7 linked regions of the Homo sapiens genome follow. The protein of the gene in region 6 purifies or fractionates together with the protein of the main gene of each other region. This does not show direct contact. Each region holds a gene or a part of one and is shown on either strand. Other genes may lie near its edges. The genes, in order: NACA, TMEM260, LIN28B, NSUN2, ENAH, SLC24A5 and RFC1.

The links.
Region 1: the proteins of SLC24A5 (region 6) and NACA purify together in Homo sapiens (affinity purification with mass spectrometry; one large-scale study listed by BioGRID and IntAct). This does not show direct contact.
Region 2: the proteins of SLC24A5 (region 6) and TMEM260 purify together in Homo sapiens (affinity purification with mass spectrometry; one large-scale study listed by BioGRID and IntAct). This does not show direct contact.
Region 3: the proteins of SLC24A5 (region 6) and LIN28B purify together in Homo sapiens (affinity purification with mass spectrometry; one large-scale study listed by BioGRID and IntAct). This does not show direct contact.
Region 4: the proteins of SLC24A5 (region 6) and NSUN2 purify together in Homo sapiens (affinity purification with mass spectrometry; one large-scale study listed by BioGRID and IntAct). This does not show direct contact.
Region 5: the proteins of SLC24A5 (region 6) and ENAH purify together in Homo sapiens (affinity purification with mass spectrometry; one large-scale study listed by BioGRID and IntAct). This does not show direct contact.
Region 7: the proteins of SLC24A5 (region 6) and RFC1 purify together in Homo sapiens (affinity purification with mass spectrometry; one large-scale study listed by BioGRID and IntAct). This does not show direct contact.

What each region holds. Positions count from the first base shown.
Region 1 is NC_000012.12:56,718,205-56,722,426, forward strand, and holds part of NACA (nascent polypeptide-associated complex subunit alpha), read right to left. Parts: intron 3,256-4,222; coding exon 1-3,255. UniProt on the Homo sapiens protein: Cardiac- and muscle-specific transcription factor. May act to regulate the expression of genes involved in the development of myotubes.
Region 2 is NC_000014.9:56,620,712-56,624,933, forward strand, and holds part of TMEM260 (protein O-mannosyl-transferase TMEM260 precursor), read left to right. Parts: intron 1-819; coding exon 820-991; intron 992-4,222. UniProt on the Homo sapiens protein: O-mannosyl-transferase that transfers mannosyl residues to the hydroxyl group of serine or threonine residues of proteins. Specifically glycosylates the IPT/TIG domain of target proteins, such as MET and MST1R/RON.
Region 3 is NC_000006.12:105,075,130-105,079,351, forward strand, and holds part of LIN28B (protein lin-28 homolog B), read left to right. Parts: intron 1-3,284; coding exon 3,285-3,654; 3' UTR 3,655-4,222. UniProt on the Homo sapiens protein: Suppressor of microRNA (miRNA) biogenesis, including that of let-7 and possibly of miR107, miR-143 and miR-200c.
Region 4 is NC_000005.10:6,629,523-6,634,215, forward strand, and holds the start of NSUN2 (RNA cytosine C(5)-methyltransferase NSUN2), read right to left. Parts: upstream 3,523-4,693; 5' UTR 3,458-3,522; coding exon 3,362-3,457; intron 3,235-3,361; coding exon 3,077-3,234; intron 2,456-3,076; coding exon 2,351-2,455; intron 1-2,350. Other genes in the region: SRD5A1 (3-oxo-5-alpha-steroid 4-dehydrogenase 1), read left to right, coding at 4,055-4,347. UniProt on the Homo sapiens protein: RNA cytosine C(5)-methyltransferase that methylates cytosine to 5-methylcytosine (m5C) in various RNAs, such as tRNAs, mRNAs and some long non-coding RNAs (lncRNAs).
Region 5 is NC_000001.11:225,642,873-225,647,094, forward strand, and holds part of ENAH (protein enabled homolog), read right to left. Parts: intron 1-4,222. UniProt on the Homo sapiens protein: Ena/VASP proteins are actin-associated proteins involved in a range of processes dependent on cytoskeleton remodeling and cell polarity such as axon guidance and lamellipodial and filopodial dynamics in migrating cells.
Region 6 is NC_000015.10:48,123,650-48,127,871, reverse strand, and holds part of SLC24A5 (sodium/potassium/calcium exchanger 5 precursor), read right to left. Parts: intron 650-4,222; exon of another isoform or gene 459-649; intron 1-458. UniProt on the Homo sapiens protein: Calcium, potassium:sodium antiporter that transports 1 Ca(2+) and 1 K(+) to the melanosome in exchange for 4 cytoplasmic Na(+). Involved in pigmentation, possibly by participating in ion transport in melanosomes.
Region 7 is NC_000004.12:39,286,782-39,290,707, reverse strand, and holds the end of RFC1 (replication factor C subunit 1), read left to right. Parts: intron 1-668; coding exon 669-860; intron 861-1,863; coding exon 1,864-1,947; 3' UTR 1,948-3,252; downstream 3,253-3,926. UniProt on the Homo sapiens protein: Subunit of the replication factor C (RFC) complex which acts during elongation of primed DNA templates by DNA polymerases delta and epsilon, and is necessary for ATP-dependent loading of proliferating cell nuclear antigen (PCNA) onto primed DNA.

The sequences.
Region 1 (4,222 bases), on a different chromosome or scaffold from region 6:
TTGCAGCTGGGGGCATGGGGGCCCCTTTGGGGGATGGGGTAGCTGGGCCTCCTTTTGGGGAGGGAGGAGTCGCAGCTGGGGGAGTGGGGGCCCCCTTGAGGGATGGGGTAGCTGGACCTCCTTTTGGGGAGGGAAGAGTTGCAGCTGGGGTTGTGGGGGCCCCTTTGGGGAGTGGGGTAGCTGCTGGACTTCCTTTGGGGGAGGGAGGAGTTGCAGCTGGGGGTGTGGATGCCCCTTTGGGGAATGGGGTAGCTGCTGGACTTCCTTTGGGGGAGGGAGGAGTCACAGCTGGGGGTGTGGGGGCCCCTTTGGGGGATGGAGTAGCTGGACCTCCTTTGGGGGAGGGAGGAGTTGCAGCTGGGGGTGTGGGGGCCCCTTTGGGGGATGGAGTAGCTGGACCTCCTTTTGGGGAGGGAGGAGTTGCAGCTGGGGGTGTGGGGGCCCATTTCGGGGATGGGGTAGCTGGGCCTCCTTTAGGGGAGGGAGGAGTTGCAGCTGGGGGTGTGGGGGCCCCTTTGGGGGATGGGGAAGCTGGGATTCCTTTAGGGGCTGGAGTTGCTCGGGCCTTTTTGGGGGAGGAAGAAGTCATGGATAGAGCAGGAGCCTGTTTGGGTGCTGGAGTAGCTGGACCCTCTTTGGGGAAGGGCAGATTCACCACTGAAGGAGTGGGGGTCTCTTTGGGGGGTAGTGTTACTCCTTTGGGAGACAGAGGAGTCACAGCTGAGGGAGTAGGGGCCCCTTTGGGGGATGGAGGAGTGGGAGAATGCGTCGTGGCTGGTGAGTCTTTAGAGCCTTGGAAAGAAAGACTATTCTCTGGAAGAAATGAAGCTTCAACTGGAGAAACAGGGGATGAGAGATTTCCAATAGGAGTATCAGGGCCAGCAGAACCCTTCTTGGTTGGAGGTCTTTTAGTCTGAGGAGACACACTAACCCCTAAAGGAGATGGGGAATCAGCTAGGTAAGTCAGAGTTCCTTTGGAAGATGCAGTAGCAGAAGCACCAGAGTCCTCAGTTGGGCACTCTTTGGGAGAGGAAGCAACAGGTGCCAATGCTGAAGTATGAGAAATACCATCAACCTTTTTTGTACCTGGAGGAGTCCCAGCTGGGGGAAGAGAGGGTGAGGGCACAGACTTTGGGATTTCAGGGGCCAGCACTAAGGTAGCCAGAGGAGCACAGGTATTCTGGGGGGATGGAGCCACAGGGCAATTTTCTGAAGCTGTAGGAACCAAGGGTAAAGTAGTAAGAGTACCTTCCTTAACTGGGTGGTTTTTAGGAGCTAAAGAGACAGTTCCTTCTAGAAAAGGGCTGGCTGTAGTTGTATAAGTTGAGGTACCTTTGGCAGTTGTGGGAGCCACCCCGGCAGGGTCAGCACTTTCCAAAGGAAATGCAGCCACTGTTGGGGTAATGAGAGAACTTTTGAGAAGCGGACCAGCAGAGTCTGGGCCTGCATAAGAATCTGTCTTGATTACAGAGGCCGAGGAGTTAACACCCAGAGGGGAGGTCATACTGCTGGCTGGCTTACCTATAGGGAGAGGCTCCCCAAGGCTTTTCTTTGCTAGGGTGGCTTCAGGAGAAAGAGGTATCTCTGGAGAAGAGGATGTACTTTGGAAAGAAGGGGAATTTTTAGGGGCTGCCTGGACTAACGGTAATACAGTAGGGTCTTTCTTGGTGGTGAGTCCTGCTTGGGCTGGAGAGAAAGGGGCTCCTTCAAGAGAGGCAGGTACAGTTTGGAGGTCTTTTTGTGTTGGAAATTTAACCAATACTGAACTGGGGAGATTTTTGAGGTCTTCAGGGTCTGGCAGAGGAGGAGAGACTGGTATCCTCAGAGTGGTTGCTACTTGAGTAGAAGGCTCTTTGGGAGCCACAGGTGCCATAACCAAGGCAGCAGGGGAAGTTGGTTCTATGTTACTTATGGGACCTGATGACATTGGAGGAGAAACACAAGTAGCTACCTCAAAGGTAGTAGTAGGTGCTGCAGCAATTGTACAGGGGTTAGTCACCACAAGTGGGGTGGTTCCAACAGAAGAAACGGGCATTTGGGCCACTAAAGGATAATGATAAGTGGCATTAGGAGAGCTTTTGAGAATGAGAGAGGTTGTAGGAGATAATGAAAAAGAGGTAGCTACATTTAAGGAGCCAGAAGGGCTGCAGGTTATGCTAGAGATGGTAGAGGGACCTTTGTCAACAGATGGAGCCACCACTGGAAAGGCAGCCACAGTAGCAGGAACTACCTCATTTCTGGAAGGAAGGGGAGGAATTACAGATCTCTGAGAAGGATAAGAGGCCCCTGTGGAAGAATGATCTACAGAAATGGTCTTCACTGTAGGGTCTGACAAAGCACTAGGACCTGTTTGACCTAAAAGTTGGACAGAACCAAAAGAACTCTGATGTAAAGGTGCAAGATGAGAGCCCAGAGAAATGGGAAAATCTGGGGGGGTGTTGGGACCCGCAGTCTTTTGAGAAGAGGTCACCACAGGAAGAGACTGAGTTGAAAGAGATAAGGCAGCAGGTGGACTAACAGGCCCCTTCAGGCTGAGGCTTCCTGGGTTTTGTGGAGAAATCAGAACTGAGGAAATGGTGGTATCTTTGACTTGAGGGGAAGCGATGGCTAGGGTAGTTGTGGGTGTTGTCTGAGGAAGGGAGGCCACTCCAGATTGAATAGAGGCCATGGGAGTCACACAGTGGTAAGGAACAGTACTGACTATACATGGAGGGCTGGGGGTGCCTTTTGGATTAGGGACTACCTCAGAGGGAACTTTATTAAGATTAGTCTTTGGTTCTGAGGGAGCAATGGGAGCTGACAGAGTTATCACTGACCCTGACTCAGCTACAGCCACTGAAGGAGGTGAAGTAAGAAGGTTAGGTGGAAAAGCAGAACTCTTCTGAACTGAGTGGGGAGCCAGGGCAACCAGAGCTAAGGGAGCTGAAGAGGAAGGGGTCCCTTTCAGAGTTGGAGCTATCATGGGAGAGGCTAGAGCTAAGGCAGCTGGGGAGATGGGAGGCCCTATTAGGTTTGGTAGGAAGGTTGGGGCTTCAGGGGCAGTTCCCAAAGGTAGGGCTGTTCCAGAGGATGACTGGGGAAAAGGAACTTCTAAAGGGGTCGAGGCAATAGTAGAGGGGGAAGGGAATGGGGAAGCCTGGTTAGCAGCTGAGAGAGGGCACTGTTGTGGGGCAGGAGAGCAAGGAGGGGGGAGGGTAGGTCCAGGCTGCCCTAAGGCAGCAGTGACACTCAAGGCTGAAGACATAGGTAGCACAGCTGGAGAAAGGCAAAAGGAGATAAAGAAAGGGGGAGGGGGAGGAGAAAAAAGGTGAGTTATGCAGCCCAACTTGGTACAACATGCCTCCTAGGAAACACTGGAGTTTAAAATCTGACAGTCTAAGTCACCACGCAGGATTAGATAAAGGTGACAGGCAACAACAACCTTCCCCAAACATTTTTCAGTGGTCAAGTGAGAAGACATTCCCCTCCTAATTTCTCACACTTCCCCAAGTTCTACCAAAGTAAACCAACTATTTTAGGGTGAGGAGAACAGTCTAAGAGCAGCCTATCTCTAAATGGGGAGCACAGACTCTTGGTAGGTTGAGAACAACATGCTTTCTATCCTTTCCCAGTTGTGCCCTCCCCTTACTTCTTGAAATGGACTGTATTCCCAAGTCTTTCTCACAGCCAACAGAATTCCCACGAGAAGAACAGCTGTGCTACTCTGTCCACCCAAATATCATGAACAGAAAAGATACTGAAAACTGGAACAAAGAAGTTAGTGAGCAGTGACGATGATGGGGAATCTGAACTGAATAAGAAAACACAGGCTTTTATACTTTCAGGCTTCCACTAGGCTAGGAAACATCTGACTCTGTTAGAATAGTTTTGGGAAGGAGGTGCACAGCACAATTCAGTTCTTCCTAAAGTTGAAACACTTCAGAATTTAATATCAAGTATTAAAGTCACTTAGCTTCTTTATACCTTACCAGTTTACTTACTCACAAAACCCAAACAAGAAAACCAACCACAAAAGGACTGTAATAGTCTCTATAAACCTTCCTAGGTGATGTTAATTCTTCAGACATCAATCCAAGATGAATTAGACATGAATTAGACCTCCAGGCAGAGAGCTTACTCACAAGGGTAGGGACTGTATTATGAAACTGTAACCTAACTTGTTAAACCAGATTGTGGTGCTATTTTGGAAGAAGAGAATTGGAGAGCCTGTAACAGTGGCTCA
Region 2 (4,222 bases), on a different chromosome or scaffold from region 6:
TGTTTTGTGATACCCCAGATATTCTCAGCTCCATCAAATGTAATGGACTTGGTAATAACAGAAAGGACATTGCTTGTCTCATTTTTTGATACTAATTACTGTTTTGTCATCTTTTTCTTTTTTCATAGAATGCTGTCAGAATTCATGCCAGTTTTTCTTTGAAGTTAGAAAGTTAACTTCATTCTTGAAAAGAATGAAGTTATTGGCAATAGCAAATAATGCCTGGAGAGAAGTAAACAACTCAGGAAACTCGTCCTCCCCTTGCTTCTCATTGGTCTCATTCCCTAGCAATTTCTTGATCTCCAAAGGCAGAGAGGGACACAGGAGGCCTGTGATTCAGGGGAGAAGTGGAAAGGATCAACCTCTGCATGCAAGAAAATCATACAAATGCCATACAAATTCAAGTCAGAAATGGGCAGATTTCCTTTTGCATTTCTGAAAGTTCCTTTGAGTAAATGGAATGAACATAAAATTGCCTTAAACTCCAAGTGGAATCAGAAATCTTACTTTCTAAAAATAAAATTGGATTGCACTTAGGGGGAAAAAAGGACCTATTCTTGTGTACTGATTCCCTTTTTCTGGAAATGATTATAAACTCCAGAAGTAAGCAGTAGACTGATTTTTTTTCAATTGCACAATTAGCTGCTGCTTATCAGGTGATAGTATTCTCTCTTCAAATATACATATTATTTTAGAATGTATTGAAACACTAAATGTTGATTGTATGATGGGAAAAGAATGGCATAGAAAATAAGCCTAGTCTTATTAAAACTGTAGCAAAGTGTTGCTATTTTAATTTTTTTGGATCCTTTTATTTAGTGTTTGTGACCAAAGGACCAACTATGTGATTGATAAGTTCGCAAAGAACCTTCTCACCTCTATGCCTCATGATGCAATTATCTTACTCAGAGGAGATTTGCCAGGAAATTCTCTCCGTTACATGCATTACTGTGAGGGGTTGAGGCCTGACATTTCATTAGTGGATCAGGAAGTAAGTATATGAAAAATATACTTAGAATATAGCGATGATTTAAAAACATATGTTTTGGAAAAAACATCTTTTTTAAAATGGTGGACGGGTACAGTTTTCATGATCACTGTTAGGTAGAATATATATGACATTCTACATGTTAGGTAGAATATATATGGGCATACTTTTTTTTATTTTAACTAATAGTGTAAGTCACACTAGTTGCTTCTTTCTCATTTAAAAACATTTAAACTGAACGTTTTAAGAATTAATGTGTTTCATGTTAGATTCATAATGTTTTAGGTCTCTAGTTCATGTGACAAACCATAAAAGTGTTTGTTGTATGGTAAATCTATTTTTAAATTGTTATTTTACATTCAGGCCGGGCGCAGTGGCTCACGCCTGTAATCCCAGCACTTTGGGAGGCTGAGGCTGGCGGATCACGAGGTCAGGAGATCGAGACCATCCTGGCTAACATGGTGAAACCCCGTCTCTACTAAAAATACAAAAAATTAGCCGGGTGTGGTGGCACGCGCCTGTAGTCCCAGCTACTCGGGAGGCTGAGGCAGGAGAATGGTGTGAACCTGGGAGACAGAGTTTGCAGTGAGCCGAGATCGTGTCACTGCACTCCAGCCTGGGCAACAGGGCGAGACTCCGTCTCAAAAAAAAAAAAAAAAAAAAAAATTGTTATTTTATATTCAGCTAACTCAACCATTCAAATTTACCTTGCCCATTGGTCCAGGGATTAAAATAAATTATATTGAATATGAAATAAATCATACTGTAGGTAAGTAAACATTTCACTCAAAATAGAAATTATTAACCATAATTATGCTATAGAATTTTTATATAAACTTTCTTAATGCTGTGACAAAAATACATTAAGAGAGGACTTGTGAAAATTTTGAGGGCTATGAAAACTTTTTTTTTCATTGAAGAACTATTTAAACTAAGATTTATTATTTAAGCCATAGATACATAAAAGGGAAGAAACCTGTCTCTGGTGTTTTTAGAGCAGTCATTAGGAAAAGAGAAATTCTTAATCTTAAAAGAATAATATGATGAATTCAATTGAACAAATTATTAGGCATAGTACTTAATGCACTTTGTTGAATTAATGAATAATTATAATTTTTGGAGAAAACTTTATAAACAGATTTGTAAATATACAATTTTACATTTTTATAAGCAGTTGCATTTATATCATGGATGCCGATTGATTAATTTGAACTTCAGTCTAGATTCTGACAAAAGCTATGTTATTTGTTAATAACATGGTTCCACACTATGATTTTAAACACTGTTTAGAATGTCAGCTCCTGTAGTTGAGAAGCATGGATTAGAAAGTGAATTAGACCTAAACTCAAGTCCTCATTCTGTCACTTCCTGGATATGTGACATGGGGCTAATGATTTTTCCTCTCAGAGCTTCTGTTCCCTTATTTATGAAATGTAAGTCATCATTATGTAAGTTAGGGTGCATTTGAATGCAAGAAACAGAATACCTGACTTAAATGACTGAGTTTTTAGCCTCACATGAGACGCAGTCTGGAGATAGGTGATGTTAGGATTGATAATATGAGCAGTTCAGGGACGTCAGTTTCTGAGGCAGTTTTTCTGCCATTCTCTTGACTTTTCCCTCCCAGTCACAGGATGCATGCCCAGTTCCAAACATCACAACCTAAAACAAAGCACAGTGCTTCTTCTGGGGTATCTCCCTCTCTCTATTTATTGGAAATAACATGTGCCCCAGAAGCCCCCCAGCAGACCTCCACTCAGGCCCCACTGACCAATACTGAGTCATATACTCACACCTAAACTGCTTATTAGCAAAGGAGAATGACTAGACTGAGAACATTGCAGCCTGAGCTACCTGATCAAAATGAAGATTGCATTAGTGAAAAAGAAGAAGGTATTCACTGTTGAGTGGGCAATCAACAGTGTCTGATACAGTTATTCTCACATAGCAAGGTTATTTTGAGAACCAAATGAGGAACAGTAAAGTCCATAGCACACAGTGGGTATGTAATTAATATTAATATCCTCCAGAACCAGAACTATTGGGTAATAAAGCCTAATTCAGTAAGTATTTTTTGAGTATTTACAGTTTAGACTTAGATTAAAATTAATTTGTCATTTGCTGGGTAATGTCTTACATAAGACAAGTAAAACATAAGCACAATTTCTCAAATGATGATATCCGAACATAACAAAGCTTTGGTGGTGTTAATGGGAGTCTCTTCTTTAAAAAGAGGGAATGAATACATATCAAAGTATAGAGTTAAGTATGTGTTAAGTATAGAATTAAGTAAAATGATTTTTTCTAATATAAGTAAATTATTTAAATCAAAAGAATGTGTAAACTTGTAAGGATATGTAATTAATATAGGGCTACTAATAAATTCAGATAATTTGAAATGCCAAAAGAGTTTTTAACTTTGAGGCCTAGATTATTACATGATTGAGCTTCTCCAGGGCAGGGATTATATCTTATTCATTATAGATGAGCATACTTGATTTTTTTAATGAATAAAATAATGGCTATTTTGTCTAGGTTGTCTAGTCTGGCCATCAAAGGCATTTCAATTTCAGCAAACATGATTTGAGAACTGGCCAGGTGTGGTGGCTCACGTCTGTAATCCCAGAACTTTGGGAGGCCAAGGCGGGTGGAGCACTTGAGGCCAGGAGTTCGACACCAGCCTGGCCAACATGGTGAAACCCCGTGTCTATCAAAAATACAAAAATTATTCTGGTGTAGTGTCATGTGCCTGCAATCTCAGCTACTTGGGAGGCTTAGGTAGGAGAATGAACCCAGATGGCGGAGCTTGCAGTGGGCTGAGATCATGCCACTGTACTCCAGCCTGGGTGACAGAGTGAGACTGTCTCAAAATAATAATAATAAATTTGAGAACCGTTCTATGCCAGGCAGTGTGCTAGGTGCAGATACACAGAGATGAAAAAATACAGTGCCTTTTTTCTAGGAGCTCACAGTCTGGTGAGGAACAGGCTCTCATAGAGGTGAGTACAAAGTACTAGAGGATCATGCCATTCTGGCTATGGAGACAGAGGAGGGCATCAGAGGAAGTGATATTTACAGTGGTTCTGAAAGTTGAATACACGTTCTCTAGGTCAGTGGTCCCCAACCTTTTTTACACCAGGGACCGGTTTTGTGAAGGACAGTATTTCCACAGACTGGGGGTTGGGGGTGGGGGTGGGGAATGGTCTCGGGATGAAACTGTTCCACCTGAGATCA
Region 3 (4,222 bases), on a different chromosome or scaffold from region 6:
TATGAGTATAGTTTTCTTTGTATGGTCTTTTGTGTGAGACTATGTCCTTATATTTCTTAAGCATATAGCTAAAAATGGACACACATGATATTTTTATGCTCACATCACAATGTAAAATTCATTCCAACTACAAAGGCAAACTGATGTGGAACAGTGTGGAGGGTGAACAAAGGGGACTAAAATCATGTATAGCTTGTATGGAGTATATAGTTGTGGTATAATTTGTGAGCTGCAAGGTAGCTGAACATTTCTATTTTGGTGTCAGTCCCTTGGGAAGGAAGGGGTTTCATAATGGAGAGTGATCTGTACTCTTAGTAAGAGTGATTGACACTGAATGATTAAATAGAAGAGAATATAAATACCACTCCTCCCCCTTTTAAGGCTAAGCACATAGACACTAAATGCAAATCTTTTCAATGTGGAAGAAAGTCTGGCCTAATGATAGCACATATCAGGAAAGCCAAGGGGGTGAATTAACTATGCAGATCAAAATGTAAGGAAACCAAAATTATATAGCATCCTTAAAAATAACTTTTATAGCCCAAATCTAATGGTAAATGCACAGATAGAGGGTAATTGAAGATCCCATTTGTGAAAGTAGAATACTGACATCAGGCTCCTGGTCAATGAGTGGGCAAAATGGTTCCCTGAATTGGATAACACAGTGCATACCACGGTGACTGATAAAATTGATGTGTCTGCAGGAGAGCCAGCCCTATTACTGAAGCCTTTAACCTATTTTCTGTCTCTTTGAAAATGAGCTCCTGAGTGGAAGTTATCCTCAAGGAAGTGAATTTAATTCAAAAGAAGATATTTTATAGATGGGCAACTTTAATTTAAGAATTCACTTATCTATTGTAGAGGAGAACTGTGTGGGAAAATATATTATTATAAGTAATGTGGTTATATTTTTCAAATATGTCATTTTTTAGTGTTATTTTGAGAACCTGAATTTTAAGCATTAGCAAGTAAACTTTATTATTTAATCTTACACTCTCTTAGAACATATGGCTGAAACAATATTGAATCTGCACTGTAATACTTTATTAAGATATGTAATTATACAATGAATAATTTAACTACAACATGTGATTTCTTGTTTTTTTTTCTCTTTTTGAAAATATGATTCAGTCTGTCCTAAGATAAATACTTGTTAATCATTGCAAAGAATAAAAGCCCATCTTATAAATTCATTATTCTAAAGTATATAAGGTAATATTGCTAACTGGAGAAGCAGGCAATAGTTACCCTAATTTTTGCCAATTAAAAAATTCACTGTTCAATTTATGCCAGGAGATAAAATACTAAATATCCTATATACACTGCTTAGTAGGTTGTTAGTACCTTAGTAGTTTGTCTATGAAATATAAGGTAGAATAAATTATTAAGTTTGATGTTCTCACACACATACAAATATGTCATCATAATTCACTTCTTGTTGTGAGTCTGGACTTAAGCCAATTTTCTCAGTTAACACTTTTTTTGTTGTTGTTGTTGGAGATGGAGTCTCACTCTGTCGCCAGGCTGGAGTGCAGTGGCGCAATCTCGGCTTACTGCAACCTCCGCCTCCCAGGTTCAAGCAGTTCTGCCTCAGCCTCCCGAGTAGCTTGGGACTACAAGCGCGCGCCATCATGCCCAGCTAATTTTTGTATTTTTAGTAGAGGCAGAGTTTCACCATGTTGGCCAGAATGGTCTGGATCTCCTGACCTCATAATCCGCCTGTCTCGGTCTCCCAAAGTGCTGGGATTACAAGCGTGAGCCACCGCCACCCAGCTAGTTAAAACATTTTGTTATTATTTTTTAAAAACATTATAACCTGGCTGGGTGCAGTGGCTCACGTCTGTAATCCCAGCACTTTGGGAGGAAGGGGCAGGCGGATCACTTGAGGTCAGGAGTTCAAGACCAGCCTGGCCAACATGGTGAAACCCTGTCTCTACCAAAAATACAAAAATTAGCCGGGCATGGTGGCACATGCCTGTAATCCTAGCTACTCCCGAGGCTGAGGCAGGAGAATCGCCCAAATCCGGGAGGCAGAGGTTGCAGTGAACCGAGATCACTGCACTCTGGCCTGGGCAACAGAGAGAGATTCCATCTCAAAAAATATATATATATAACCTGTTGTTCTTTGTGCTTCATAAATGAGATTTATGGAGTCATAAATGTATTTGGAAAATAAAATAGAAAGCTCTTAAAATATTTCATTTGGAGACAAGTCATTAAACAAATTCTGTATTTAAAATCAGATTTAACACCTTTGGTAAATATAAATTTTTCTTAGTTTCTTCCACTAATGGTTTTTTTGTTACTTTTAATATAAAATTTTAGAAGAAAATCTGATTGAACAAATATACCTCTGAAAAAATTTTCTTGCTTAGCTTTCCTTGCCAAGCTAAAAGCTGAACTTTCAAACATCTAATACAAAGCCATGTCCCCAGTGTGCATTCACATATTATGGACGGATTTCCATTTATTTTAACTTAAAAGAGATCACCCTAAAAGAAAGCTAATTTCTTACAAAAAAGAAAAGAAAGTTAACTTTTCTCATCATTGAACTAGCATGAACCTTTATTAATTCAATCTAAGTATTTAGAAGCTTTCTTTTTTTAGCACTGTTCTGATTCAGACATTTACTCTATTGCTCTAAAATTACTTGGTAATTTGCCAGATATCATCCTGACTTTCTGACTAGACTCTGACTTTCTTATATATCAAATTTCACTGCATTACTTAATTTTATACAAAGGAAAAAAATTTTTCCAGTTTAGCTGGTTTCTACAGTCAAAATAATTAACATTCAAAGAAGTGTTAAACTTTTAAATTTGGTCTAAAATTTTGCCAGTTTCTGAGTGAATTGCCACTTTGTATCATGCCAACAGCTGTATTTCTACACTCTTGTTTTTAAAACTGGCTTGTTGTTTTTTGTTGAATATTCGCTGCCCTCTAGTGGGCTTAATGGTTCTTTTAAAATGACCAGATAGTGTCAAATTTAAAGGAATCCTTTCTATATGGAAGTGATTAAATATTCTTACATGTTTTAATACTCTTGTTTTTCACTGTGTTTAGTTGTGTCTCACACAACTAAGTTTTTAACCTCACCAGAACATTTTGGTGATGATAGTCTTTGAACCAACAGTGTAACCAGTATAAACAATGATAAATGCTTTTAAGAAGGCACATTAAAATAAGCTTATCTCATTGGTAGTTTGTGTGTTTTCACATTTTAAAATGTGTTTTTGGATACATGCTGCCTACTTCTAAGATGTTTTCATCTTTTTTCCTTGTAGATGCTACAACTGTGGTGGCCTTGATCATCATGCTAAGGAATGTAGTCTACCTCCTCAGCCAAAGAAGTGCCATTACTGTCAGAGCATCATGCACATGGTGGCAAACTGCCCACATAAAAATGTTGCACAGCCACCCGCGAGTTCTCAGGGAAGACAGGAAGCAGAATCCCAGCCATGCACTTCAACTCTCCCTCGAGAAGTGGGAGGCGGGCATGGCTGTACATCACCACCGTTTCCTCAGGAGGCTAGGGCAGAGATCTCAGAACGGTCAGGCAGGTCACCTCAAGAAGCTTCCTCCACGAAGTCATCTATAGCACCAGAAGAGCAAAGCAAAAAGGGGCCTTCAGTTCAAAAAAGGAAAAAGACATAACAGGTCTTCTTCATATGTTCTTTCCTTTACCCGGTTGCAAAGTCTACCTCATGCAAGTATAGGGGAACAGTATTTCACAAGCAGTAGCTGACCTGGGATTTTAACTACTATTGGGGAACTGTGAATTTTTTAAACAGACAAATCACTCTAAGCAAATTACATTTGAGCAGGGTGTCATGTTTTATGTTAATTCAGAGAATAAGATACTATGTCTGTCAATATGTGCATGTGTGAGAGGGAGAGAGCCTGAGTCTGTGTGTGTACATGAGGATTTTTATATAGGAATGTAGACACATATATAAAGAGGCTTTGTCTTTATATATTTGTGTATAGATCAAAGCACACACCCTCTCTCATATAATTGGATATTTCCAAGAATTGAAAACCCATGTGAAGCATTATAGATAGTTTTAAATTTAACCCACTGGAGTTTTCTTGAAATACCACTTCTTTTATATTATATAAAACTAAAAACACGACTGTTACCTTTTGTGTGAACCAAAGGATACTTCAGATCTCAGAGCTGCCAATTATGGGGTACTAAAGGTTTTTAAGACATCCAGTTCTC
Region 4 (4,693 bases), on a different chromosome or scaffold from region 6:
CCCGTCTCTGCGCTTCTAAACACAAGGTTTTAGAAACAAATGTTTCCAGGTGATTGTGTGAAGCAGCACATACATGCATCACTGCTAAAAATACAAACATGCCCGAGGAGAATCGTAATCCTGTCTTCTTAAAATATTTTAGATGGTTTGGCTCTGTGTTCCCACCCCAATTTCACCTTGAATTGTAATATTCCCCACGTGTCAAGGGCAGGACGAGGTGGAGATAATTAAATCCCCGGGCCGTTTCCCTCATGTTGTTCTCACAACAGTGAGTTCGTTCTCAGGGGGAGATCTGATGGTTTATTAGGGGCTTCTTCCTTTGCTCAGCACTCATTCTCTCTCCTGCCACCCTGTGCAGAGAGATCTTCCGCCATGATTTTAAGCTTCCTGAGGCCTCCCCGGCGATGTGGAAATGTGAGTCAATTAAGCCTATTTCCTTTATCTATACATTACTCAGGTATGTCCTTATAACAGTGTGAAAATGGACTACTACAGTATCAGACCTCTACTTCAAGTACAACACAATCAGTGTCGTCAATCAAATCTTCAAACCAAACGACTTGAGCAAAGTCTACAACCTAGTTACCAGGAGGAAGAAAAGCTTGATCTCGTGAAGGTTACCTCATCTCAGCAATGCCATAACTAGAGGCTGAAAAACATCTACCTTTTCCACTGATCTCACTACAGTGGACAATTAGTGACCACTAACAGCAACGTAGCACCCGTATCATTTTCCTATACTGTACCCTTCAAGCTTTTAAAAATCTAAGATGTGGCATATCTATTCTTTTTTCCCTTTTTGAGACATGGTCTCGCTCTGTGGCCCAGGCTGGAGTGCAGTGGCATGATCTTGGCTTACTGCAACCTCCACCTCCTGGGTTCAAGCGATTCTCATGCCTCAGCCTCCCTAGTGTCTGGGATTACAGGCGTGTGCCACCATGCCTGTCTAATTTTTGTATTTTTAGTAGAGATAGGGTTTCACGATGTTGGTCATATTTATTCCTATATCCCAGCAACACATTCCATGATGGTGATATTCGGTCTTGATACTGGTTGAATACTGACTTAATGTTTGGCCAGTCAGCATTCATTGTGAATGTATATGCTTATCTGTGATAGGGACAATGAAAATCCAAATAGCCAATGAAAGAAAAACAAGCAAATCTGTACCCCATGATTAATGAAAATCTGACCTTGATTTGCGAACACTAAAGGTTATCCAAAAAGGAAAGATAACACTACGTACTGGAATAGTCAAAACCTCAAAAGTTGATGCAAAACGCTTAATTTGGCAGGGCGCAGTGGCTCACGCCTGTAATCCCAGCACTTTGGGAGGCCGAGGTGGGCGGATCATGAGGTCAGGAGATGAGACCATCCTGGCTAGCAAGGTAAAAACCCGTCTCCACTAAAAATACAAAAAAATTGGCCGGGCGTGGTGGCGGGCACCTGTAGTCCCAGCTACTCGGGAGGCTGAGACAAGAGAATGGCGTGAACCAGGGAGGTGGAGCTTGCAGTGAGCCAAGATGGTGCCACTGCTCTCCAGCCTGGGCGACAGAGTGAGACTCCGTCTCCAAACAAACAAACAGACAAACAAAAAACGGCTTAATTCACCTTTTCGTGCATTACTTTTCTGAGAACTCAATACCTCAAAGTTAATAATAACGACTTTCCCACTTATGTAAGTTAACTGAAGGACTGGCGCCTCCGGAGTTCTCCAAGCATCTTTACAAGATGCTATCAGCACAAGGGATCACCTTCATACAACTGAGACTAGAACCGAGCCATGAGGAATAGGTAACCCAGAAGGCACCTCCAGGACAGGTCAAGAAAGAGGTAGCTCCCAGAGTAGTAGCACGCTTGGGTGCTGAGACTCGGAAATGCTACATTGGCTGGTGCAGTCTGTACTGCGAAGTACCAGGAGACAACCTGACAGCAGACAGTGGTAACCTGTCTGTAATGGAAAACACTAAGAGACTACCTACCAGGAGACTGTTGTCAAGCTAAGTCTGTCCTTTTTCTGAAGGCAAAGCAGCCACTCTGCAACAGTTTTGATGTGAGAAAACAAGGGCTGTAAAAGGGAGCTGGCGGAAGTGGTGACATAAAGGAAGAGGCTGGATGTACTAGGAAGAGCTGGCTGAAATCAGTGACTCATAAAGCTGCAAATCGCAAATCGCATGAAAACTTGCGTAGCAATATAATGTTGATAAAAGCACCAGGTACTAGAACATTAGGATGTTTGCAAAGTATACCCAAGCTCTTTAACAGCAAATGCAGTACCAAGAAATATAATTCAAGTGATAGAGATTAATATCCCAAATAAATATTCGGCATGAAGCACTGTGGTACCTACCAACTCAGTGGCTGTGGAACTTCAACTTTCTGACCGTCCACCTCCAGGTCCTCCAATTCCTTAAAATATTTGTTCTTTAAGCAATGGAGAATCTCTTTTGCGTGGCTATTGAAAAATAAGGAAGTTTCAAACTGATCTAAAAAACTAAGTTAATACATTGTATCTTCTTAAATTTAAGACTGCAAGTGTTTTAAAACTAAAACCAACTTTTGCATGGAGAGTAAACATTCTTTAGTCACTACTTTTACACTGTATGCCTTCAAAATTTAAGCAATCCACACTGTTTGAGCCCTAAGAGCAACACTGCATTCCTTCTCTCCTAAGCATATCCTACCGTTAAGTTTTACTTGCGACTCATTTAGAAAGATGTAACTACAAAGATGGAGGGGGGGCGCGGAGGAGGGGAGAACCAAGGGGTTTTATGCATTCTCTATAAATTCTCTTACGTTCCAAAAGGTAAGACCCTCAGCTTCCCTCCTGGAAGATTCCCCAGGAGCCGAATCTTCCTCAGATCTCATTTTCATTTCGTCTTCTAACCTTGCGCCTGCAATACCTCCGTGACCATTTCATTGGACCCTGTGCTCCCCACCTCAATGCTTCCTGAATCCAAACCGCTGAAACGCCACGGTTCTCTGGCACTGTAACACTTGTCGAAGAAAACACCGTCGCCTTTAACCTCCAGCATCCTGGCCCCAACTCCCAAAAAATCAGGCACTGCCTCCCTACCTTTTGTAACCAGTAATTCTTAAAGTGGCCGGGAGCGGCTCCCTGAGAGCGTCCATGAACTGGCCCCACTCGCCCTCGGGCACGATCTTGAGCTCCTGGTAGTAGTGCTCGAACAGCTTGTTCTCCTTGACGATCTCGGGGTAGCCTCCTTCCCAGCCCTGAGGAAGGAAAGAGACGTCTACCCCGAGGCCCAAGGAGCCGCCCCCTCGCCGCCGCCTCGCAGGCCTCGGGGTCCGGGAAGCCCAGGAGGAGCCCCTGGCCCGCCCGCCGGGTCCCGGCTCCTACCGCCTCGCCGCGCTTTCCACCACCCTCGGCGCCATCCTCCGCGTCCTCCGGCCGCTGCTGTTGCTGGAGCCGCCGACCCCGCGACCGCCGCCCCATAGCCCACGCGGCCGCGCACGCAGCACGCAGAAACCGGCCCGCCACGGCCAGAACTCTAGCCCTACACCTCCCGGGACTTCCGGCCGGAAACCAAGGCCCCACGTGTCCGGGCCTGGTCCTTTCGGGGACCTTTGGGGACCGTCCAGGAATAAGCCCAAAGCGCACAACCCGTCTTTCAGAAAAGCGGCGTGACAGGGAAAACAGCGAACAGCTCTAAGGGGAAAAAAATGCTCCAGGAAGCAGCCACAAAGGCGTCTCCGCGCGAAGCGCCCAGGTTTCCCACGCGGGCTCAAGGAGCTCCGCGGACAGCCTGAAGCCGCGCGTGCGCAGAGCGGCGCGGGGTTACTGCGGCCCCGGCGTGGGTGGGGCGCTTGCAGGTCCCTCCCCGCGCAAGTGCTCGCCCCGCCCCCGGGGCCGCACCCACAGCCCCGGCTACCCCGGAGAAGCCTGACTTGAGAACCCTTTCTGCAGAGTCCCGGCAGTGCGGGACTCCGGTAGCCGCCCCTCCGGTAGCCGCCCCTCCTGCCCCCGCGCCGCCGCCCTATATGTTGCCCGCCGCGGCCTCTGGGGCATGGAGCACGCTGCCCAGCCCTGGCGATGGCAACGGCGACGGGGGTGGCGGAGGAGCGCCTGCTGGCCGCGCTCGCCTACCTGCAGTGCGCCGTGGGCTGCGCGGTCTTCGCGCGCAATCGTCAGACGAACTCAGTGTACGGCCGCCACGCGCTGCCCAGCCACAGGCTCCGAGTGCCGGCGCGGGCCGCCTGGGTGGTGCAGGAGCTGCCCTCGCTGGCCCTGCCGCTCTACCAGTACGCCAGCGAGTCCGCCCCGCGTCTCCGCAGCGCGCCCAACTGCATCCTCCTGGCCATGTTCCTCGTCCACTACGGGCATCGGTAACGTCCCCGGCCCCCGGCCCCCTACCCTACTCCCGGCCCGGCGTCCTCTCCGACCCTCCCCTCACTGCCCGGTGCCCTCTCCCCGAAGCCTCCCCCACCCAGATGCCCTCTCCCTGCCAGATCCCCCGGGGCGTCCCCCATCTGCACGGGTGCCCTTCCCCGAGTCCCCCGGCCCCGGGAGTTTGGAAACCAGAAGGGATTCGTCTGGAAAGGGCGGGAAACAAAGGACTGGAAGGGAGTGATGGAAAAAAACATGATGAAACTGATCTGGAAAGAGCCACTCAGTGGTCCTAGGTTTGGTTTCCTTAGCCGGGCGCGGTGGCGCCTGTCTGTGATCCCAGTT
Region 5 (4,222 bases), on a different chromosome or scaffold from region 6:
ACAAATTAAACCAATGAGGTAACACCTTTTACCTATCACATTGGCAAAGATTAAAAGACCGATAATGGCCTGAGCTGGCCAGAATGTGGGGTAACTAGAAATCTCATCTACTCTTGCTTATCTGGTAACGTGTATCAAAAACTGATACAACTCCCTTTAGTCATTTTGTTTATTATTCACTCAAATACTTATGCATACTCACAGAGGCCTGTGCTGGGAACTTGGAATGCAGAGCCAGGTCACGCAAGACCTTAATAATTTTGGTTTTATGACAAATTTGGGTTTTAGTCTAAGATGCCGCTGAAGGCTTTACATGGGAAATAACAATATCTGATTTCCACTTTAAGAGTATTCTGAGTGATGCATGAAGAACAGGGGACATGAATGGAAATGAGGAAACACTAATAGTTCAGGTAAGAGATAACAGTGGCCTGGACTTGAGGCAGTGAGATGGACAGAAGCAAGTGAAGGTGACCTGGTAGGACAATGATAGACTGGATACAGAAAGGTAAAGAAACAAAAAATAAAAAAAAAAACAAAACACAGCACTACTTCTTGATTTTACTTCTAGGAATGTATCCTAAAACAGTATCAGATATGTACACAAAGACATATAACCAAAGATGTTCACAGCAGTGTTTTTTATAATAACAAAAATAATGGAACAAATCTAAAAGTCCATCTTTAAGATTTAAGTAGACAAAGTCATCCATCCAAAGCAATGGAATATTATGCAGTCACTTAAAGTTATGTAGCTATATAGTTAGGAACAAGAATTACTGGCTGGACACAGCAGCTCATGCCTGTAATCCGAGTGCTTTGGGAGGCTGAAGTGGGAGGATGACTTGAGGCCAGGAGTTCAAGACCAGCCTGGGCAACATAGCGAGACCTTGTCTCTGCACAAAAATCTTAACAATTAGAGGGTGTGGTGGCGCACATCTGTAGTCTCAGCTACTCAGGAGGCTGAGATGGGAGGATCGCTTGAGCCCAGGAGTTCGAGGCTGCAGTAAGCTATGATTGCACCACTGCACTCCAGCCTGGGTGACAGTTTAAGACCCTATTTAAAAAATAAAAATAATAAAATGTAAAAAGTATAGATATTATATATATGGAAAGGGACAAGCTACAAAATACACAATACAAATATAGTATAATTCCATTTTTAAATAGTATAATCTTACTTTTATATATAATCATATGCACACGCACAATGATCTGCAATGCTGCAAATGCACTACAAAAAGTTTAGAAATCTACACATTAAAATATTAAAATACTAGATGGCTTGGATTTAACATTTCATAAATAAATGTTTTATACTTTCCATACCTTCTAAAATCTGTTCAAAATCTGTACTACTTTACAATGGAAGGAAAAAAGTAATTTAAAAAAATACTGACCAGACATATGGACAACAGTAATTGATTTATTTTTCTAAAAATAATTCTAAAAAAATTGTGCAAAGACCACAATTAAGTAGACTGTAAGTAAAAGTTTTAAATGAAAACTTAAGATACATAAATCTTAAATTGTTAAAAACTGAACGGTCACAATTTTGCTTGCAATATCAGTCTAACATGAGAATTTGGGGGAGGAGGAGAAAGACTGCAGAACAAAGCAGATATTCAAATAACCAGTATATAATAATTATTAAGACTGCATAAAAAGATCCCTTCACTGAACTGTAAAAGGAGCAATTTGGACTCCCTTGAGATTTGACCTCAAGAGCTATTCATTTTATTTTACTTAAGTTCTTGGTTCTTCATAAAGCTCCCCCGCTGCCAAGTTGCAAATGTAACAGATACCAAAAAGGACAGAAGACTGAGGACCTCTAAGGCACAGTTAAAGGTAGTCATTTTGATTTCACATCATCAGATGTATTCTTACCAAGACCAGATGTTCTATAAGGCCTTTACCACTGGAAAAGGGCTCAGTTTATTTAAAAATATCATGATTACCTCATTCCCCAAAGACAAAACTTTTGGTATTTGAGACTACTGTAAACAAACCCCAGAAAATCACCACCCAGATTTAAGTTTTCTGAAGATTCTGATGGATTTGCTTCATCACATTTTACTGGTGACTTTAGTCATCCTTACTTACAACAGGCCTACCAAAGAGATGGCTGGCTGTCTCCTTAGCACGAAGATACAGCTCCAAAATTTGTTCAGGCCTTTCAAAGCCACCACTACCAAGGTTTCCACCTCAGCATTCCCACGTGCTTGTTTCCCTACAGAGAAATGTCCAGTGGTTCTATCTTCAATCTCTCTTCTTTAAATAGCACGAAGATGTCAATTCAAAATATTAATCCAAAGTAATAAAAATGTCAGAAACAACTCACGTAAAAAGCAAATGAGATCTTCTGGTGTTATTATATAGATCTGTCTATTCTGGGCATTTCATATAAATGGAATCATGGCATATATCGCCTTTTGTGTCTGGCTTATTTCACTTAGCATAATGCTTCCATCTACGCTGTGGCATGTATCAGAATTCCATTCCTTTTGATGGCCAAATATTATTCTGTTGTATGGACATACCACATTTTGATGATCTATTCATGAAATCAGACACACCTGGGTTATTTCTGCTTTTTGGCTGTTATGAATAACGATACTATAGACATTTGTGTACAAGTTTTTCTGTGGACAAATGTTTTCATTTCTAGGAAAGGAATTGCTGGGTCATACGATAACTCTATGTTTAACTTTTGAGGAACTGCCAAACTGTTTTCTAAAGCAGCTGCACCATCTTACATGGTTTTTCACATTCTTAACATAAACTTAAGAGATGTCAGACTTTCATAAAAGTGGGGGATTTACTCTTATCAAGCTCATTTTGTGTGCCAAGTGTTATGCCAGAATTTTATTTAATTTTCTCAACAGCTCTATAATTCACAAAGTATATTCGATCCCAAAAAATGTTTATAACCCACTCAAAAATAAATTATTTAGTAAATGTCAAACTAGAGTCAAACCCAGAGTTAACTTCAAAGCCTGTCCTCTTTACCCTACACCATTCAATCTCTACACTTAGATATACATACATTGCCTCATACCCAAAGTAGTCTTTGGAAAAGTTGCCTGTTAATAAAACTTACTTTAATCATTGTAAAATAGAAGGTTCCCAGTGTAAAGAGATTTCTAGAAAATTTAACGGATATCTTGTATAAATCAATCAACCCCCCTAATTTATCTTCTTTAGTAAACAACTTCTGGTTACTTAAAACAAAACTTATCTAAAGTTCACCTAAATATTAAACAAATTATTTTCTTCCAAAGTTGTATGCACTGACAAAAAAAAAAAATGTAGTTATCTTCTGCTATAGACTGAACTGTGTTCCCCTAAAATTTATATGTTAATACCCTAACCCTCAATGTGACTCTATTTGGAAAAAGGGCTTTTAGGAGGTAACTAATGTTAAATTAAGTTATAAGCACAGGGCCCTAATTCAATAGGATTAATGGCCTTATGAAATGAGGAGGAGAGAGAAATCCCCCCTCATCTCCCCGACCCCAGGATTCCCATACCCACCCTACCATGTGAGGACACAGAGAGAAGGATATCTTCTGCAAGCCAGGAAGAGAACCCTCACCAAAACCCATCCATACTGGCAACCTGATCTCTGACTTCCAGCCTCCAGAACCTTAAAATAAATGTCTAGGCCGGGCGCTGTGGCTCCCACCTGTAATCCCACGAGGTCAGGAGATCAAGACCATCCTGGCTAACACAGTGAAACCCCATCTCAACTAAAAAATACAAAAAAATTAGCCAGGCGTGGTGGCAGGCGCCTGTGGTCCCACCTGCTCAGGAGGCTGAGGCAGGAGAATGGTGTGAACCCGGGAGGCAGAGCTTGCAGTAACCTGAGATCGAGCCGCTGCAATCCAGCCTGGGCGACACAGTGAGACTGTCTCAAAAAAATTAATAAATAAAAATAAAAAATAATTTTCTGTTGTTTAAGCCACCCAGTCTATGGTATTTTGTTATGGCAGCCCACACTAATACTTCAAGAGTATCATACACTACCCAGTGATTGGTATTTGAAGCACTGATAAGAATCAAAACAAAGCAGGGCTGGGGGCGGTGACTCACGCCTATAATCCCAGCACTTTGGGAGGCTGAGGTGGGCGCATCACGAGGTCAGGAGATCAAGACCATCCTGGCTAACATGTTGAAACCCCATCTCTACTAAAAATACAAAAAATTAGCTGGGCGTGGTGGC
Region 6 (4,222 bases):
TTTAAACAGAATATTTTTTAATTTTAATTTTTATTTATTTATTTATTTTGAGATGGAGTCTTGCTCTGTTGCCCAGGCTGGAGGGCAGTGGCATGATCTCAGCTGACTGCAAACTCTGCCTCCCGGGTTTAAGCAATTCTCCTGCCTCAGCCTCCCGAGGAGCTGGGATTACAGGCCAGGTGCCTGCCACCACGACTGGCTAATATTTGTATTTTTGTAGAAATGGGGTTTTACCATGTTGGCCAGGCTGGTCTCGAACTCCTGGGCTCAGGTAATCCACCCACCTTGGACTCCCAAAGCACTGGGATTACAGGTGTAAGCCACTGCTCCTGGCCTAAACAGAATATTCCAGAGATATTTAAGGTATACTTTAAAGTTGTCACATGGCTTATTAGATAAAATAACTAGTTTAATAAGCTTACTTCCTACCTTGTCAAATAGACCTTACTTTTATTTACCTTAAATTTGGTGTTCAAGTTCTAGCAGATGCACCGTAGATTTGGTTATTTGCTCCAAAAATACTTAAATAGGCTTTGGTATTCCCCATCTCCACTTTCATCTTTCCTGAGTAAAGGATTCTAACCTCTGTAGTCTGTTCTTATGTAACAATGAACATTCAGTGAATGTTTTCTATGTGCTAGGTACTTGTGTAAGCAGTTCACTTGTGTTTCTTCGTGCACTTGTCACACAGCACTATGAACTGAAAGTTGTAATCACCCTGTTTCACAGCTGAGATAACAGAGGCAGAGGGAAGTTAGGAACTTTGCCCAAGGTCACAGTGCTAGCAAATGGCAGAGCCGGGATTTGAACCTGGGCTATCTGGCTCCAGGGTGGGCACTTTCAATTGTCTCTCTATAAGAGTGTGGCACTAGAGCATATGACGGCTGTGTCCTTCCCCTCCAGCTGTCCGGGGATTCTCAGCATTTGTCATAGACCATTCAGCAACTATATCAATATATAGAGAGAAAAAAATTGGAAAAAGCCCCAAGCAAACAATACCAGATAGGACTACAAAGTGATGTAACTAAATTCACAAACTAAGCAAGGGAATCTTAGACACAGGTTTCTAAGTCAGGCTTACATGAATGATCAGAGACGACAAAGGCTCCCTCCTTTTCCTTAGTCATTTGGATTCCTCTCTCACTGTGTCTCTGTCTCTCTTCCTGTCTCTCATACACACCCCTCAGGGTATCCATCCGGGTAACATTCTAGAGTAGCACAACTGGTTAGGATGAGGAAGCTCTCCTTAGTTTATTCCTCACCCCATTACCTCTAGCTCCTTTAGCTCTAACTTGGGCTTGGATAATGCTCCTCTTCTGATCACATCTTTAACTCTTTTCCCAGAATCTCCATTCTGTTTCCCAGCCCAGAAGCCAAGGCTTTCCTCCAAACGTGAAATGCCCTGGACAACTAGAGGGTGATATATTTGTGTCCCCTCTACAACACCAATTAATTTCATTTCAGCCCTCTGTGTTCAGAGAATTATTAGCTTCTTTTCCTGTAGAACCAAATGGACAGAAAAAGAAGATAGGATTACAGGAAGGGGGCATAGCAACAGCATTTTCTTTTATTGGCTCCATACAGTTAAGATGGTGGTAAAGTGTCTGAGGTTGCCTCGTAGAGATAGGTGCTTTTCCAGCTTTTCCAGTGTTCGAGGGTAGAGGAGAGGGTGTGTGACTTTTATGATCATGAGCAGAGCAAGGAGAAGGAAAAAAAATCCTTGCTGGAAGCCTCTGGTGGAGGCAGCTCTAGGAGACCAAGACCAACATACATAGGTCCAAAAGAGAAAGAGCACTGGTTTGACCGAGCGGGGGCCCTGCCAGAGCACCAGCAAGAGGCTCTGCCCTCTTCCACTTCCAGCTCATCGCTGCACGGAGATGACAATCCTGAGCCTCTTCTAGTCTTCACCTGGCTAAAGATCCTGCTGTTGGCCAAATGAGCCACTGTGGTGATTTGAGGAGTGAGTGGGGCTGGGGTGGGACAGGGGCCTGCCAATCCTTCCATTGTATTCTAGGTTGGAACTCAGTATACATACCCCACAAGACATTATAGCCTCATCTATGATGATGAAGTTCCACTGTACTACATTATGATCTCATGATCTTGGACAAAATGTTTAGGCCTGGGAGCTTATGGATAAGTGTCTATAGCATTGATTTACAATCACCTATAGGTTGCCAAAGGTCCAAAATGATTTTTGTAAATAATTCAATGTATTCTCTTTATTTTGTAATATACTTCCTCCATAGTAACTGTGGGTATTTGATATTTTTTTGTCAAAATTTTCAGTGCTCTCGAGAGGAAAATTTCTTGTAAGATGGTTCAAATAGAACAGTTCTGAAACAACTATATTCTAGCAACGAATCTCAAACAAGGATGTGTAAAGTTTTATCATGTAGCAGTTGAGATCATGCTTGAGTTTTGGCATTAGAGAGATCAGGACTTTCTCTGTGTGGCTATGTGGTCATGAGAAATTACCTACCCTCCCAGCCTTGGCTTCCTCATCAGTAAAACCAAAACATTAGTCCCTATTTTGTAAGGTTTTTGGGAAGACTAAGTGAAACCATATATATATATATAAAATCATATATATTATATAAACCATATATTATTATAAGATATATATCTTTCATCTATAATTTTATCATAAGTAACTGATAAAAAATAACACTGTAGTACATTGTGGAATACTTTAGTAAACTGTTTTGAGGGTTATGTTGATAACTATTAGTTGACAAAATGGGTGGAACTATTATGACTCAATGCTCATCAAGAAACTGGGGAAAGGCAAAGCACTTGCAGACTTTTGAAGCCCGTTTCTGCAGATGTGAAGAAATTTCAGGAAAATTGTTTTTTATTGCTGATGTCATAATTTGGATAAGACCATGCTAGAACTTGAAAAGAGAAGTGACAGAATTAATTTATAAGCATTTAAAAATGAATTGAGCTAGCACTATTTCTATCTCATTTTGTTGCCAGTATTTTCAATACTCAAGATGAGGGTCAATTTTTAACAGCTGAAGATTTGGCAGTGGCATGGATATTCATCAATCACACATCTGTAAGAACTACTGTATTTCAGGGCAGAGAGACTCACTTGAGAAATGCATGTTTGCTGATGATCTTTCAAAGTAATTTCACAAGGTGCACGTTGGAAGTCACTTAGACATATTAAGTCACTTAATGAACAATATTTTGAAGTCATAATCTAAATTTTAATGCAGTAGTGTCTTCTACAGGGCTAGAAAGGTTTTTTATTTATTTTTCACTTCTCCTAAGATAATTTTTATAATAAAATTCTTGATAGATTTATTTTTTCAGTCATGTCATTGTTCAGTTAAGTCATTAGAAATGGAAATTATTCCTTACAATTTAAATTTCTGTGTTTTATATGATTAACATTTTTAATTTTTCAATTTTTAGTTTTTTACATTTTTCTAATTAAAAGTGCAGTATTGGCATAAGAATGTACAAAAAGGTTATTAGAACAGAGTTGGGAGCATAGAGACAGATCTACATCTATATAAGAACTTAGTATATGAAAATTGATCAACTGTTGGAAAAAAGAACATTACATCCTATAGCAAGACAGATTCTTAGTGGAAAAAATAAATAAATTTTAAAAAATCCTGCATGTAGAATAAAATATGATGATTGTTGTGACCTATGGATAAAAATGCCTTTCTAGTTATAAAACCAAAAGGAGAACCATAAAGAAAAAGATTTACAAATTTACTTAAAATATTTAAACTTCAAACTTCAATGTGATAAACACAAAATGCAAAATCAAACAAACCATGAAAAAGCATATGATATGAAGTAATACTAGAAAAAGGGTTAATATCCTTATATATTTTTAAAGTCTTGAAAATCAATAAGAAAGAGACAGAATACCCCTGATATAATATGGGCAAAAAAACACAAAAGGAAAACCATAAAATAAAATAAACATATAAAATATTCACCCTCATGGATAATAAGATAAACACAAATTTTATAAAATAATGGGAGGTTAAAGCAACCAAGGATATTTCACATATTTTTCATGGTTTTCTGGAATGGATGCTTAAGGAGGTATAAGTAGGCACACCTTTTGTGGGATGCCTTTTGCAAATATATATCATAAGACTTAAAATATCCACATCTCTGCCTCTTAATCAGGAAATGATCAGAGAGGTGTGCAAAGATTTTATACAATTATGGGCATGACATTAACACAAAA
Region 7 (3,926 bases), on a different chromosome or scaffold from region 6:
AAGTAGCTGGGATTACAGGTGCACTCCATCACGCCTGGCTAAGTTTTGTATTTTTAGTAGAAATGGGGTTTCCCTATGTTGGCCAGGCTGGTCTCAAACTCCTGGCCTCATGTGAACTGCCTGCTTTGGCCTCCCAAAGTGCTGGGATTACAGGCGTGAGCCACCACACCCAGCCGAGCCCCTTTTTGATTTACTGATTCACTGATTAACTTTGCTTACTACTTTGTAGAAATGTGGAGAATGCTGAATAGGTAAACATGATGACTTGAAGTGACCTTTTGTTTGTTTGTTTGCCTAAAGTTCCCAAATATATATATACGTATTTTTTTTTTTTTTAGACAGAATCTCACTCTGTTACCCAGCCTGGAGTGCAGTGGCGCAATCTCAGCTCACTGCAACCTCCACCTCCTGGGTTCAAGATTCTCATGGAGAAGCATGAGCCACTGTGCCCCACCTTCAGTCTTTTTTGTCATGGGCTCTATTAAGAATGTTATGAAAAATATGGAACTTATCCACAGAAAAATGCACGTACTTAGATTTACATGTATATACATAAATACTTTGCAAACAGTTGCAGGGGGCTCCCAGGGTCTCTTTAGGCTTACAGAGTTTAAAAGAATTGTTTGGGACTTAGATTTTTAAAAACTCCATCTACTCCTTTCATATAGGTGAAAGCAGCCTTCACAAGAGCTTACAATAAGGAAGCCCACCTTACTCCATACTCACTTCAAGCTATAAAGGCATCTAGACACAGCACAAGCCCATCCCTGGATTCGGAATACAATGAAGAATTAAATGAAGATGACTCTCAATCTGATGAGAAAGACCAAGATGCTATAGAAACTGATGCCATGATCAAGGTAGTATTTTAAGCCACAGACAGGAGAACCTCAAAATAGATGATCTTTCCTTGCCTGGTGAATAATAGGGCCTTTTCAGCACATAGCAGAATAACTTGAAAATACTTCTTAAGTTTTTTTGTTCATCATGGTTGAGGGTGGAGAAGGTAGAGATTTCATTTTTATAAAGTTTCTTATGGTAGTCGAAGAGCCAAACAGCAAGAAAACAGGCCATGATATTGACGGCCATATGTTCTGTTAGAAAAAGTACCATTTTTATTTATCTAGCCATTGGTGTATGCTTTCAAGAAAAATGTTTGTAACAAAACAGTTTCTTCTGTTGCTTATGTTTTGCTATAGCCACTAAACTGCTTTGTAGAAGTTTCTTAGAGCAAAACATTCTTGTCTTTTGATGGGAAATATGAAAACCAATTGTGGTATCAGCCTGCTGTGTACAGCTGGCTGAGCCAAGGAACCTCATCTGATCCTCCTCTGTCCTTCGCTGGGTGTGGGTGCTTCTTGCCCTTCATTTCTGTTTTCTGTATGCAGGAGTAGGAATAGTGGCCTTCTTCACTGTGGCTCCCATGTCGACCCTAACAGGTGGTCTTCCTCTCTCCCTCTCTTCTGCTTTCACAAAATGACTGTTTACACCTCTAATCTGAAACTGAAAGAAGAGGAAATTCTTCATCTAAACATTACCCTATTTGTCAATTACCTCTTGCTTATTTTGTCTTTCCTAAGTATACCTCTGTTCTAAATCCAAGAAACTGTCTTACATGGGGAACGGATCCTAGTTCTAAATTCTAAACTAAAAGTTTTTACTGCCAGCTTTTAAAGGCTGTAAGTGGCGCAGTTGTTGCTGTAAGCGCTTCATGGGTTGCAGTAGTTCAAGATCTCGATGTTTGCAGCCTCTCTTCTTTTTTAATTAAGTTGCAGGTAAAGATTAGATTTGTTATAGAGATGAACTTATTTCATTTACTCATAAACACAGCTATTAACTATTTTGTTATCTTCCCCCTAACAGAAAAAGACAAAATCTTCAAAGCCTTCAAAACCAGAAAAAGATAAGGAGCCCAGAAAAGGAAAAGGAAAAAGTTCGAAGAAATGAAACCATTTTTCACTAGCGACAGCCACTTTTTACTCTCCCTCCTGACCAGTCCAGCTGGTCTAGAGAAAGCCTTGTTTTTTCCCAGAGCAACCATGTTTTAGCATAATGGGATGACCTGGTGTCCCATTATAAATAAAGGGTGGTATGGCTAGAAGGGTATGAGCAGTAGGCTTATGTACACCTCTTATAGAGGTTGATAGGACTGCTTGGGTCCTCCACTGTCCTCTGTCAATCTAGTTAGACGTGCTTCTGAATGACTGTAGAATTGGAACTAGAAACTACACCTGGGCTTTGGAGTCAGATTTTAGTTAACAATAATGAGCCTGGGAGCAGTAGTACTAAGGCGTCTTTTGTAGGCTTAAGAATTTATCCTAATGGCCTTTATAGGACCAATGCTGATTTTTTTTAAAGGCAGTTCCTATTATGTGGTGAAATTTTGTAAATAAATGATTATACAAAACAGTCACCACCTAGAACTGGGTATTCTTTGTACATTGTCAGATATCTTTCAAAGTATAAATTAGGAATAAAAATGTTCCACATGATATGTGTACAAATTCTTTTTAAGATTGTCATCTTGTACAGCAAAATATTATGTTGGTATATTACTTCCTTATTAATTTGCAAATGATTGGATTAAAAAAGCTCACTGTATTCCTTACTAACCTGTTGTGTGAAACATAACATTGGCAGTCGAGGAGTCAGAACTCGGATTCCCAGCCTCACTCCCTCTGTGTGTGTTGACCACGTCTCTGCTGTGAATAGGATTTCATGCAGTGGTCTGTTATGGGGCTTTGCAGCGTGGGGGGCTGCAGAAGATTCTCAGACATTCTTATCCTTCTGGAGTCTCAACCCATCAGGTTCAGACCAGTAGGAACCAGGCTGGGTCAGGCTCTTAATTTCACTATGGTGGGGGACAAAATGAACACTGGCTTTTGTTCACTTTGCCCCTGAGAGATCTAGTCCTGTCCTGTGATGGCTTCCACAAACCCTGTTGGAAGTTTGGGTTATTCCTATAACTGTATGTGTTGAGTGGCCGTGAGGCTATGGACCTAGCCTGGAATTTAGATGTCTAGCTATTTTTTAATCTTGTTGGTAAATGCTCAGAGGTCTGTGCTACCTCTGTGAGGTATATACTAAAATGAATGTAAAATAAGGATCGTATTCCCTGCTTTAAGGAACTGGTAGTCTTGTTTGGGTGATGAGACAAAGTTCTTGAGACATTTAAACTGTATTTACCAGTGTGAAAAATGTCATTTATGGAGATTAATTCATTATGGAAATAAAACATTGCCTAAGCCCTTGCCTGCTGAGTCACGACCCTGTCTTTGTTAAAGTCCATCTTGAAATTCTTATGCTTCAGGAAAGGTTTTCTCACCAGTAGGGTGAGGCTGGCTTTCCTATTCATGTTCTTCCATTTCTATGCCTTTTGGATATGCAAGTCACGTCTCCCTAGGTCTTCTGCAGCCCCCAGGAGAGAGACTTGAATCTCCATGCAGCCAGGATGCGGCATAGTGTCCTTCACTTGTTCATTATGATTTTGTTTGTAATTTTAAATGTTTTAAACCCAAGATTGGGATAATATGTGTGTAAAATTAATAGCATTTCTTTTAGAATTAGAAATTGTAAATATGCCCTTTATGAGGATGGCATAGGTCTGATTCCTCTTTGAAGCCCTCGTGACCATGAGGTGAATGAGTGAGATTCATGGTAGGAGGCAGTTGGTGGTTCTGCAGCAGTTTGGATGTGAATCTGAATGGTCTGTATTGGGGTTGAGTCTTCATTGGAGCCACCGATGATGTGGCCTTTTGGAGCCACTTGATGGCACATGCCATCTTTGCAGCATAAAACTGTATACTTACTCTTTTCGAGATCCATTGAGTCACGGCCATTTTGTTACTTACACACCATTCAGCTTTAGCCTTCATCTTGTTAAATGTTGGCAGTTTGTAGCACCACCATGATTTGATCTCTTAAAG